Regions from separate parts of the Homo sapiens genome. Here regions 2, 3 and 4 are each linked to region 1. Evidence: fine-mapped expression QTL. A gene starts in region 1. Each other region holds a variant in brackets. All regions are shown on one strand. Distances are between the middles of the regions. Region 1 holds the start of CMIP (c-Maf inducing protein). Region 2 overlaps CMIP (c-Maf inducing protein). Region 3 overlaps CMIP (c-Maf inducing protein). Region 4 overlaps CMIP (c-Maf inducing protein).

What was found. PIP is the estimated chance that this variant, and not a neighbour inherited with it, causes the effect.
Region 2: its variant is fine-mapped to the expression of CMIP in whole blood (TOPMed, PIP above 0.99).
Region 3: its variant is fine-mapped to the expression of CMIP in whole blood (TOPMed, PIP above 0.99).
Region 4: its variant is fine-mapped to the expression of CMIP in whole blood (TOPMed, PIP above 0.99). The same link has a PIP of 0.9 or more in T cells, blood mononuclear cells, lung, sun-exposed skin, thyroid and tibial nerve.

What each region holds. Positions count from the first base shown.
Region 1 is chr16:81,443,752-81,446,429 of GRCh38, reverse strand. It overlaps CMIP (c-Maf inducing protein), which reads right to left and starts at 1,622. Exons shown (of 21, transcript NM_198390.3): 1 at 889-1,622. The coding sequence starts at 1,188. RefSeq lists enhancers at 1-84, 2,249-2,678 and silencers at 630-929, 1,360-1,409, 1,480-1,829, 1,940-2,039.
Region 2 is chr16:81,472,200-81,474,877 of GRCh38, reverse strand. The region is part of intron 1 of CMIP (c-Maf inducing protein); the gene reads right to left. Among named protein-coding and RNA genes, the nearest start is that of CMIP, 29 kb to the right of the region's middle. The variant A/G (reference allele first, on the strand shown) is at 1,450.
Region 3 is chr16:81,710,378-81,713,055 of GRCh38, reverse strand. It overlaps CMIP (c-Maf inducing protein), which reads right to left. Exons shown (of 21, transcript NM_198390.3): 21 at 1,294-2,678. Among named protein-coding and RNA genes, the nearest start is that of PLCG2, 68 kb to the left of the region's middle. RefSeq lists enhancers at 1-152, 835-1,517. The variant A/G (reference allele first, on the strand shown) is at 1,564.
Region 4 is chr16:81,700,281-81,702,958 of GRCh38, reverse strand. CMIP (c-Maf inducing protein) reads right to left here. Exons shown (of 21, transcript NM_198390.3): 16 at 1,159-1,299; 17 at 290-337. Among named protein-coding and RNA genes, the nearest start is that of PLCG2, 78 kb to the left of the region's middle. The variant C/T (reference allele first, on the strand shown) is at 1,552.

The DNA.
Region 1 (2,678 bases):
CGACCCCACCACAGCTGTCTTTCTCCACGTACGAAGAAGGCCACCATTTGCAGATCTGATTTCAGAAACAGATCAATGGTTTTTCCTCTCCGACTCATCCAGCTGACCCAGTCCTACCCATGTATTTAAAAACAATAACAAAATTAAACCTCCAGCAACAAAACACACACGTATACACACACTCTACAGACAATGCCGGACCAGGGCTCCACCAAGCAGCTTCTAGGCTAGAACTCGACCACCGCTGGGTCCTGAGATATTCCAGGACCACTGCCCCCTCCCCCTCCACTTCCAACCTCTCAATGTGCGAATGAGATTTTCAGAAAGGGAAGCACCCCGTTCTGCCTGCCAGCCCTGGCAGGAAAGAGAATAAAGGACGGGTAAACCAAACAGAGAAACTGGCTTCTGGAAATTCTTTGGGTTTGGGGGTTTGGAGGTTTTGTTGTGTTGTTTGTTTTTTTTTTTAAATCTGAGGGGTGGTATTTTGTTTTCCCCTCCCCCACCCCTCAGATCCAGATGGGCCAGGGGCTTCCAGAGAGAACCCCCACCACCATCAGGGCCCAGCGTCGGGTCCATCCTCGAGTCCCAGCCACCAGAAACACAAGAGCTGGGGGCAGAAGGTCCCCAGGCACCCAGCCTGGCGGTGGGCCGAGTCTCCAGCATTTTAAGGGTCTCTCCTGAGCCCGGTCGGCTGGTTTGGGCTTCAGACTCCAAAATCGAGCCCCGCGAGCAGGCCAGGAGCGAGGCGCCCTGGTTCTCCCCGTTCCCCCGGCACCCCCCACCGCCCCCCAGGCCCTGGGCTCCAGGTGCAGCGCCAGGGGGCAGCCAGGGAGGGCGCATCTCGGGCCCCGAGGAGAGGCGGGGGTGCAGCCGCGCAGAGCCACTCACCGTGGCGGACGCCAGGCTGTTGTCGGCCAGCGTTAGGTGGTGCGGCTCCCAGCGCCTCAGGAATTTCGAGGTGAGGATCTTGCTGAGAAAGGTCCGCGGGTGCCGGATGACACAGACCTGAATGTCGCCCTCCTGCAGCAGTTTGTACCTCATCCCGTTGCAAAGCAGAAGAGCCCGGCGGCAGGGCACGGCGCCCATCTTCGTGCCTTCGGGGGCCGACACGTCGCCCCCCAGCAGCGGCTTGGTCTCCTCGATCTGCCGGGGGTCGCCGCCGCCGCCCGAGCTGCTGGTCACATCCATGGCCGCGCCGGGGGAGGGGGCTGGGGGCGGGGAGAGGGGGCTGTCCTGGGCTGCTGGGGCGGCGGGGCCCCCGGATCCGGCGGCCCGCACCCCCCCACCCCCCGGGAAGGTGGGGGGGTGTGGGGCTGGGGGCGCCCGCAGGGGAGGGGGCGCTGCCCGCGGGGGGCGGCGCGTGCGGCGGGCTGGGCCGGCCTCGGCGCTTCCTGCGGGGCTCCGGGCTTCCTCCTAGCTCGTCGGGTGCATGCTCGCGGCGGCTGACCGGGCTCGGCGGGCGACGGGGAGGGGCGGGGGAGGCCGAGGGCGGGCCGGGGCCAGGCGCGGAGGGCGGGCGCCGGGGTGGGGGCGGCGGGGTGGGGGCGGGCGTGTCTCGGGGCCCCGCGCCGCCGCGCGCGTGTGTACAGAGCGTGTGTCCGCGCGGCCGTCCGGGCGAGAGTGGCCGCGGGCGGGGCGGGCCGCGCGCCGGGCTCCCGGAGCCCGGGGCGCCCGCGCGATTGGTCCCCGCAGGGTCATGTGCCCGCCCCTCTGACGTCAATGGCGGCAACGGCGGCGGCCGCGGCGGCTTCGGCCTCTCGCGGGCGGAGTCCGCGGTCCGGGCGGGGTCGCGGCCCACGACGGGGAGGCGCGGCCCGACGGGAGGGGCAGCCCCTGGGGAGGGGGCTGGGGCGGGCGAGCCCCGCGGGGTCCCGGCCCGCCCCGCCTGGAATGTGGGGAGGGGGCGGGGCGCGGGGGCGGGGCGCGTGACGTCACGCCAGCCGCGCCCCCGCGGGTGCCCGGGCGGGAGCCCAGCCAGGCTGCCGGAGCCTGGGGGCCCGCGCCTCACCCACCCCCGCCGCCCCCGGGCCGGACTCGGACGGGTAAAGAAGGATACCCGAGGGCCGGGGGCTGGGTGGAAGGACGGGGACTGGAACCCTCGACCCCTGACGCCCCCTCCGCTGTCCAGGCTGTCCAGCGGGCTGGCCAGATGGGGCCGTGGGACGGGGACGCCTTCCCGACTGAAAGTGTCCCCGCGGTGATCCGGAGGATGAGCCCACCCTGCCCTGTCTCCCACTGCGGGACCCAGCCGGCCTCGAACTCCTGGCCTTTGACGTCTGCTGGCTTTGGCCTTGGGGGTCCTCAAACCTTCTGGAGAGAGGGGACGGTCCGCCCATCCCCCTTCTTTCTTCTGCCCAGGGAGACAGAGCCTCTTCTAGGAACCCACTTAAAGCACCCCCCAACCTACACAGCCACCCCTCTTGTGCGCACCCCAGCAGCTCCCCCTACTTCACCTTCCCTGGGACCCCACCTGGTCATTTTATCTGAGTTCACAGGCCCAGCACCAGCCCACGAGAGAACCATATTCGATTCTCTTGTGACCCAGGGTATCAGGAACTGCAGCCTGGATGCAAAAAGCTCCCTTTCTGCCATCACAAGCAGCCGGCACCTAAGGCCACCTAGCAAATGCTCAGCTCCTCAGCCAGGTTTTCTTATCTCCACGTGCTCCTGCAGCTAAT
Region 2 (2,678 bases), 28 kb before region 1:
CTCCCTCCCCGCCCGCCCCCCATGGCTGGAGGCAGGGCAGCCAGGCTGGCAGGGCCTAGGCACAGAGACTGTCCTGGGCTGGCTCCCCTGGCACCAAGGAGGCAGGAAGGGCGTGCAGGAGAGGCAGGACCAGAGGAGAGGGAGCCCCAGGAGGAGGGCGCCATGAGCACGGCCAACACTGAGGCCCCTCCGCAGGCGGACAGTGGTTCCTCCACTTCCCCCATCATTCCCCTTCCACAGAAGTGCGGTGACACGGAAGAGACCACACAGTAAGAAGACACCAGGGGCTGGGGCTCCCTGCTCCTCTGACCTGACTCAGTTCACCCCTGGGATCCTCACGCAGCACCTCCCACCAGAGGTGTGGTCTGAAGGTAGGGAGAAGCCACCATGAACCCCTCACATGAAGCAGAAGTAGTGTGCGACGTGCCTACCTGGTGGCCCCCGGTAAGCACCAGATGAATGGGAGGAAGGGAGTGAAGGAAAGAGAGAGCGGAGAAAGGAAGGGGGAAGGGAGGAATGGAAAAAGAGGGTGCAGGAGAAAGAAGGGGGAAAGAGAAGAATGGAGACAGTAGGGAGAGAGGGAGGGAGGGTAAGTCAGTGACAGACAACTCAACTTAAGGAGCAGCAGCTGGACTCCCACAGTCACCTTGCCCTCTCCAAGCCCGGGGGGTACAAAGTCCACGCCCACAAGCTCTGAGCAGGGGGGAACCTGAGTACAGTGGGCTAGGAGGCTGGGGGAGTGGAGAGGCCGTGCCCAGCCTGAAGGGGTGGCCACACAGGAACATGGGCACAGCCAGGAGTGCCCGGTTAAAGGCCTGCCTCTGCTTCTTTAGCTGTAGAATGGGGATGATCACAGGAAGCACCACCTCGGAACTGTCTGGGGATCCCAGGAGCAAAGGGATGGGAGTCGTCTAGAGCTGAGCCAGGCCTGTGGTAAGTCACATAGAAATGTTTGCTTCTGTTGTTATTATTAGAAAATGGATATCCGGAACTTTTTAGGGGAATGCTCCCAACTTTAAAGGCAGACAACTTACTGAAGCTTTAAGAAAAAAAAAAAAAAAAAAAACCACTGTGTGGGCCAAGTAAAACACGTCAGCAGACTTGACTTGGCCCATGGGTCATCCGCTTGCAGCTTCTGCTCAATGCGTCCCTGCGTCCCCGCGTCCCCCAAAGGCAGGCCCAAGTCCTACAGGGGTCGAAAATCATGAGTGAGATTTGAGATCACCCCATTCCAACACAAGCGTCCAAGCCCATGAATCCCTTAATGGGAAATAAATATTTAAGTCAACCCCCGCCCAACTCCCACACCAAAAGGACAGGAACTGCTAATTCTTACCCACTACAACCAAGTCTCCAGTTTTATTTCATAGGATGGAAAAAAAAAAAAAAAGACCTATTTTAAAAAGAAGAAGAAAGGGAAAAAGAAAACCAACAAAGACAAATTCAAAA[A/G]CGCACCACTGTTGACTTGGGCAACAGCCTCTGCCGGGTCAAAGAGGAAAACAGCTCAGTCCTGAAATCCGTCCCAGACATGGAAATTACAGAGCGGCCCCTGCTGACACCCCCTGCCCTTTCTGTGTCATTCCCTCATGAGGAATGCAATTATATGCCCCCCACGGCAAACACGAAGGAAGACACGTCAGTGACAGCCGCAGCCTGTTCACGTCGTCCTGCAGAGACAGAGGCCGACATAAGCACTTGCAGGCGGTGGCCACCAGTGCAGCAGGAGCTGAAGGCACTGACCTCAGAGGAGGCCGGGCAGGAGGCAGGGGCCGCAGGCAGGCTGGTGGTGTGGCTGAAGGTGCTATATTCACTCCCATTTTATAGATCAGGATGCTGAGGGTATGCAGAGGAGATGGGATCTATGTAAGCTTGGCCCACTGGATGCAAGGCGAACAGGCTCTCCTCGCACCTTCAGGGCAAGCAGTTAAACAGACCAGCCCCTCACACACTCACTGGGCAGCTGCGGTGTGGCCAAGCCCCGAAAGGAACAGGACAAAGTACTGGGCGCAGGCTGCAGATCACCACAGATGCCACGATGTGCCCCTGGATGTCCCTCCAGCCTCCACACCCCACTGTGCACCTCAGCCACCCCAGGGCCTCTGCACTCACCATCCCAACGGCCTCTCCACATCTGCACAGGATCAGCTCCTGCCTCCAGGCCACCTCCTGAGGGGCCTCCCATCTCTCCACCCCTTCACCCTGCCCCTCTACTGTCCTAGCACCTGCCACCTCTGAAGGGGCTCTGGTGATTGGCTGACACATTTGCGGGTGCCACCCCCAGTGAATGCTCAGGTTCCTGAGAGCAGGGCCCATGTTGGGGCACCCTAGGACAGGGCATGGCATGTAGCTGACACTCAACGGTGTCAAGTGAGTGGCTGTGATCAGTGCCTACAAGACCCAGGGGACCCCTGGGGAGATGGGCCACTCCTCCACGCATGGGGCACGCCACACACAGGATACCAGAACGGGCGGCCAGATGAGCCACCATGAAGGACACTGGAAATACGAACAGCTCATCTTCACGAAGCACTTCTGGGGTTCTGAGCCTTGCTCTCAAGTTGGTTCATACATCCTCTCATGGAATCCTGACCACAATTCCAGGTCATAAACACTGCTGCTAATCTCATCTTATAGACGAGGAAACTGAGGCAGAGACGTCACACAACTTGCCCAAAGTT
Region 3 (2,678 bases), 270 kb before region 1:
TGGGGTTACAGGCATGAGCCACCGCACCCAGCCTTCTCACCTGTCTTAAAAAGACCTGGCAGAGGCCTCTGGAAGGAGGCCACCAGGGCATAGAGAGAGGTGGGGCAGGTAGCAGAGGGAGCTGGATGGTGTGGGGACGGTGGGGGCTGGCAGGGGGCAACTCCAGACACAGAGTCTCTGGAGAGCTGGTTTCGGGCCGGGCCCATGGTGGAGAGGCAGAGGACTGGCTCGTGGACATCCTGGATTTCTGTCAGCATGTGGAGGCAGGACATGCCTGGGCTGAGGACAAGGATACCCCTGCTGAGCTGGGGGACCCTGAAGGGTGACTGGTTTAGGAAGAGGGGTGAAGATAAAGCATTTTTTCTTTACTTTTTTTTTTTTGAGACGGAGTCCTGCTCTGTCGCCAGGCTAGAGTGCAGAGGCGCAATCTCGGCTTGCTGCAACCTCTGCCTCCCGGGTTTAAGCGATTCTCCTGCCTCAGCCTCCCGAATAGCTGGGACTACAGGCACACGCCACCACGCCCAGCTAATTTTTGTATTTTTAGTAGAGACAGGGTTTCACCATGTTGGCCAGGATGGTCTCGATCTCTTGACCTTGTGATCCACCCGCCTCGGCCTCCCAAAGTATTGGGATTACAGGAGTGAGCCACCGTGCCTGGCCAAGATAAAGCATTTATTTTTGGACTTGTCAAGATTGCCTCTTGGAGACATCTAGGGGGAGGAGGCAGCTGAAGTGTGGGTCTAGGAACCTGGCATTGACCAGCAGCACAGCATCACCTGGAAACTCGTCAGGAATGCAGATTCCCAGGCACCACCTAGCGCTATGGCGTCAGTATCTGCGTTTTCACAAGACCCCCTAGGTGGATGGAAGGCACATTCCTTGGAGTAGCTCTGGGCTACAGCTTTCGTAAGGCCCTGCTGAACAGCAGCACTGACCTCAGTCTATGACACGGAGTCTCAGCTGGGGAGCGAACTATCCCCCCACGGGACACGTGGCAACATCTGGAGACACTCTGGTTGTCATAAATGGGGAAGGGGTGCTACTGCTGGGTAGAAGCCAAGGATGCTGTTCAATGTCTGGCAATGAACACAACAGCCCCCCTGCAACGAAGACAGCTCCGGCCCCAGTGGCCAACAGCAGCCAGGATGCTGAGCCCTGGTCCTCAGGAAGTGCGCACAGAAGGTGGCGAGGGCATCCCGGCACTGTCTTGAGCCTCAGATTTCCCGCCTGGGCTTCGCCCCCTCCTTGGACCTTCTCCCGCTGGGCGCCGAGAAACCACACAAAGGCCAGACATTGATGAGTCACTTACAGTTTATTTTTGCCTGAAAGTATTTCACATCTCTTTGTACACAGCTACGTGACAGTAGTATTAACCATCAGGAAAAGCAACAGTGCGAGGGGAAAGGTGGCATGTCTTGTTTCTTCTTTTTTTTTTTTCCTTTTTTATTTTTTTTATTTTTATTTATTTTTTTATTTTTATTTTTTTTGCTTCTGCTTCTTCCCGCACCAGAGTGCTGTGAAGTATGGGACCGGAGGGGGGAAAGAAAAGAAAACCAAACAACT[A/G]AAAACAACAACAAAAAACAAAACACAAAACAGAACACACTCACACACACACGAAATAAAACCTGGCACGGAAAATGAATTAAGACTGGAACCCAGTTTCTTTTTTTTTTCCTTTTTTAAAAAAATGAGGGCATAGTGGGGGGGTAATAAAGTCTACCTAGCAAAGTATAAAACGACAAAAGCATGGTTTCCATTGAATAAGATTAAATATATATAAAACAAGTACACTGACTGTGGGGTAGGTTTGGAGGTGCCGGAGGAGGGAAGTATTTGTGCTAAACCAACAGAAAAAAGGGCTGGGGGGAGAGGGGGACCCCAAATAAACCATCAACGGGCTGTTCTGTACAGTGAGGGCTTATTAAGAAAAAGCCGACTGTTTATAAAAGAAACGGAGGTTGGTTTGTCTTCGGAGCAGGTGGGGACAGAAGGAGTGTCTTCGTTGCAGTGGTCACATGTGGGGGGTGGCGGGGGTGGGGTGGGGAGGGCAGTCGGACTGGCGGAGGCGACACATCTCTCTTTTCCCAAGAGACCATGCAGAGAGGCGGGCATGCATGGGGCCACGTGAAGCACACGATGGCAGGGGGAGCCCAGGGGTGACAGAGTCTCCGTTGGGGACAGGGGACAGCAAAGGCTGACAGGGACAGGAGCTCCCTGGGGGTGGGGAACAGCTCTTTTACCGGGGTGGACTGGAGAGGGCGGGTTAGCAGCCTCCCATTCAAGTCTAAAAGGTGCCGAGAGAAAGAGCTTGGGCCTTAGTGGAGCAAGGGGATCTTAATCCCTCCTCCTCCAGCCTGAGCCCCACCTCGTGAGGGAGTTGGAGACATTTGGAAATCAGAAACGCACAGTGGTGGGTGGGGGAGTGGGCAGACAGACAGACAGACGAGAGAGCATTAGCATAGAGAATCCATTACGAAAAAGCAATTAATTTTTCCAAGGAGGTTCTTTTTTTTTTTCTTCTTTTTGTTGTCTGTTTGTTTCCTTTAAAAAAATAACAATAATACTACCACTAACCCGACAGCTGACTGGTTTATACAGTACTACACGCCAGGTGGGGGCGGGAGGGCGGTGGGGTCGGGCGGGGGGGACGGTCAAAGACTTCATAAATAAGAGGCGGG
Region 4 (2,678 bases), 260 kb before region 1:
CAAATGCTCAAGGTATATCTGCTATTATTCCAAGTACTATTAATAACTAGATATCAACACTATTATCACCAACAATCTGTATCATATTTTAACTTCCTTTTTGGTTTTCATTTCTCTTCCTGTAACCCAGCTACCTCCTGGAAGAGCTGGCGTGTTAAGTACTAGGGGGTCCTTGTGCCCCGCCCTCCATCACCTCCCATCTCAGCAGCAGACACCACCTGCCGTTCCCCAACAGAGAGGACCAACCCACCTTCTCCATCCAGCCCCAAAGAGAACCAAACCAACTCACTGTGGACTTGGAGGGCAGTGTTAGCCTGGTGGGCCCGCCTTTCCTTTGCTGCAACAGAAACCAGGCTGGTTACAACCATTCTTTTCCCCAAGTTTCCATTCTAGACTTCCACCTCTGTTAACAACACTCATGGAGCCATCGTTATTTTCTTGGTGGTACAAGGCAACACGGTGGTCTTGGTCTCAGGGGCAAACCCGGAGATGAGGTTTGAGCACAGGTGGTTTACTGGAGGGTGATCCCAAGAAACACCAGTGGGAGAGTGGGGAAGTGACACTGTGGCTACCTATAATGGAAGGGGTGTTATCAATCCAGCTATCACTGGGTGGGTACTGGCACCAAATCCCACCGGGGGACTCTAAGAAATGGTGGAGAAGCCATGTCTCAAACATATCTCACTGAAGGGGTGAGGGAGCTGGGGTATTTCTACACACTCTCCCCAGAAGGGACTGGTTGAGGGCTGCTCCAGGAGATCAGAAGGCATGAATTTCCTGCCCCTTCCGTCCTTCTGTGTACACATGTGTGAGTATATGCATGTGGACATACAAAGTCCTTCAGCAAAGAGGTGTGGGTGCTGGCATTTGGAAGTTGGGTCCCCCATGTACTGAAATGGAAGGGTCTAAGGGACATGGAGGAGGGAGGGTGGGCAATGTCCTGGCCAGGCCCCAATGAGCTGTGTGACTCTGGGGATTGCTTTGCTTCTCTTTGATTACCTGAAAAGTGGCAGGTGGTAATACCAATTTCTGGGGTTTGGAGGAGAATTCAACGAGATTGAGGTCCACTCAGGTCCAAGTACTAGCTGCCCCGCATCCCGCCCTGGCCCCCCCTGGCCTGCTGGGCAGGGGAGTGGTCCGGAGCAGCCGGGGACTCACCAGCTCCTTCAGCTCCCGCTGCCGGTCACACAGCTGCTCGTACATGCGCTTCCCCACGTCTGTGCTCTCCAGGGTTGAGATGATCTGCAGTTGGGTGTCGTTGTTGTCGATGATGTTGTATTCCAGCATCAAGCACAGGATCTGTCCAGAACCGCAGGGGTGCATTACGGACCCGGCCTGCCACCCTAGCTCAGCACACTCTGTGCACCCCAAGGGCCTTGTTTTGAAAACCAGCAACCCCACTATCCCCTTTCTGCAGCCCCGGCTGTGTAAGCCTGGGCAAATCACCTGCCCAACTTCCTGCTTGTACAATGGTAGCACCAGTGACCACGCACTGAGGTTCTCCAGGTTCAAATGTCAATGGACATGGGAGTCTCCCAGGCATCTGCTTAC[C/T]GTGCGGTGTCTGGACATGGGGCAGGCCCCCGGGGGATGTTTGCAGGCCCCTGAGCACTGGTGGAAAGGCCAGAAGTTAAGACACCTCTCTCTCCCCAGTTCCTTCCCCAGTGGCTGTCATGAAGTAGGTGCTCAAACTCACGGAATGGCTCAGAGCCCTGGGCCCATCTACCACACAGCTTCCTAGAGGGCCTCATGACTGCACATGTGGCTCTTCGGCCTGGGGGTCAACACGCCTGACAGCCCTGCCTCTGACATTCCCTTTCCAATGACGATTTTTTTTTTTTTTGAGATGAGGTCTTGCTATGTTGCCCAGGCTAGTTTCAACCTCCTGGGCTCAAGTGATCCTCCTACCTCAGCATCCCAAGTTGCTGGAACTACAGGTGCATGCCATGGTGCTCAGTTCTAGAACTTCTCACTCACCAAGGAGCAGGTCACTCAGCCCACGCTTCTCACAGCGCCTCTTGCCTGTCTCCTGTCTCCCTGCTCAGCCCTCCCCCATGGCCTCCGAATCCCTGTCACAGGACAGCCAAGATTAAATCCAAACTCCTTCCCAGCACCTCTAGGTACCCAGAAGGCTCTTCATGCCCATCCAGCCACATCCCAGACCTCTTGCCCCTTGGCTCCCTGTGTTCCAGCCACCCTGGCCTCCAGCAAGCCTCCGCCCGGGATGTCCCCACAGCCTGCTCAGCTCCCACCTTCCCGCTGCCTCTTCCCCAGGGCTCACATCTGCCCGAACTCTCATTTCCACGGGAGCTCCCATGGCTTTGCTGCGCCTGCCAACTCTTCGATGCTCTTCCCACTGAGGGGTGAAGTCTAGCTCCCACGGCTTTGACTGAGGGCCGGCCGCGGTGACTCACTGCCAGCAGGAGGATGTGGCAGAAGTGATGCCGCCTGCCTTCCAAGGGAGGCTAAGTTAAAAAGTGACATGGCTTCTGCCTTGGTTCCCTTGGGACAGTTGCTCTGGGAGTCTCAGGCTTCTGGGGACTTTGGGACAGTTGCTCTGGGAGTCTCAGGCTTCTGGGGACTTTGGAGCGTGCAGGGAGAGAGAGGAGCAGCAGCAGGTGAGGGGTGACCTGTGGGGCTGGGTGTGTGTGTTCTTGGCAGGTGGACAGGCTACCTGGAGG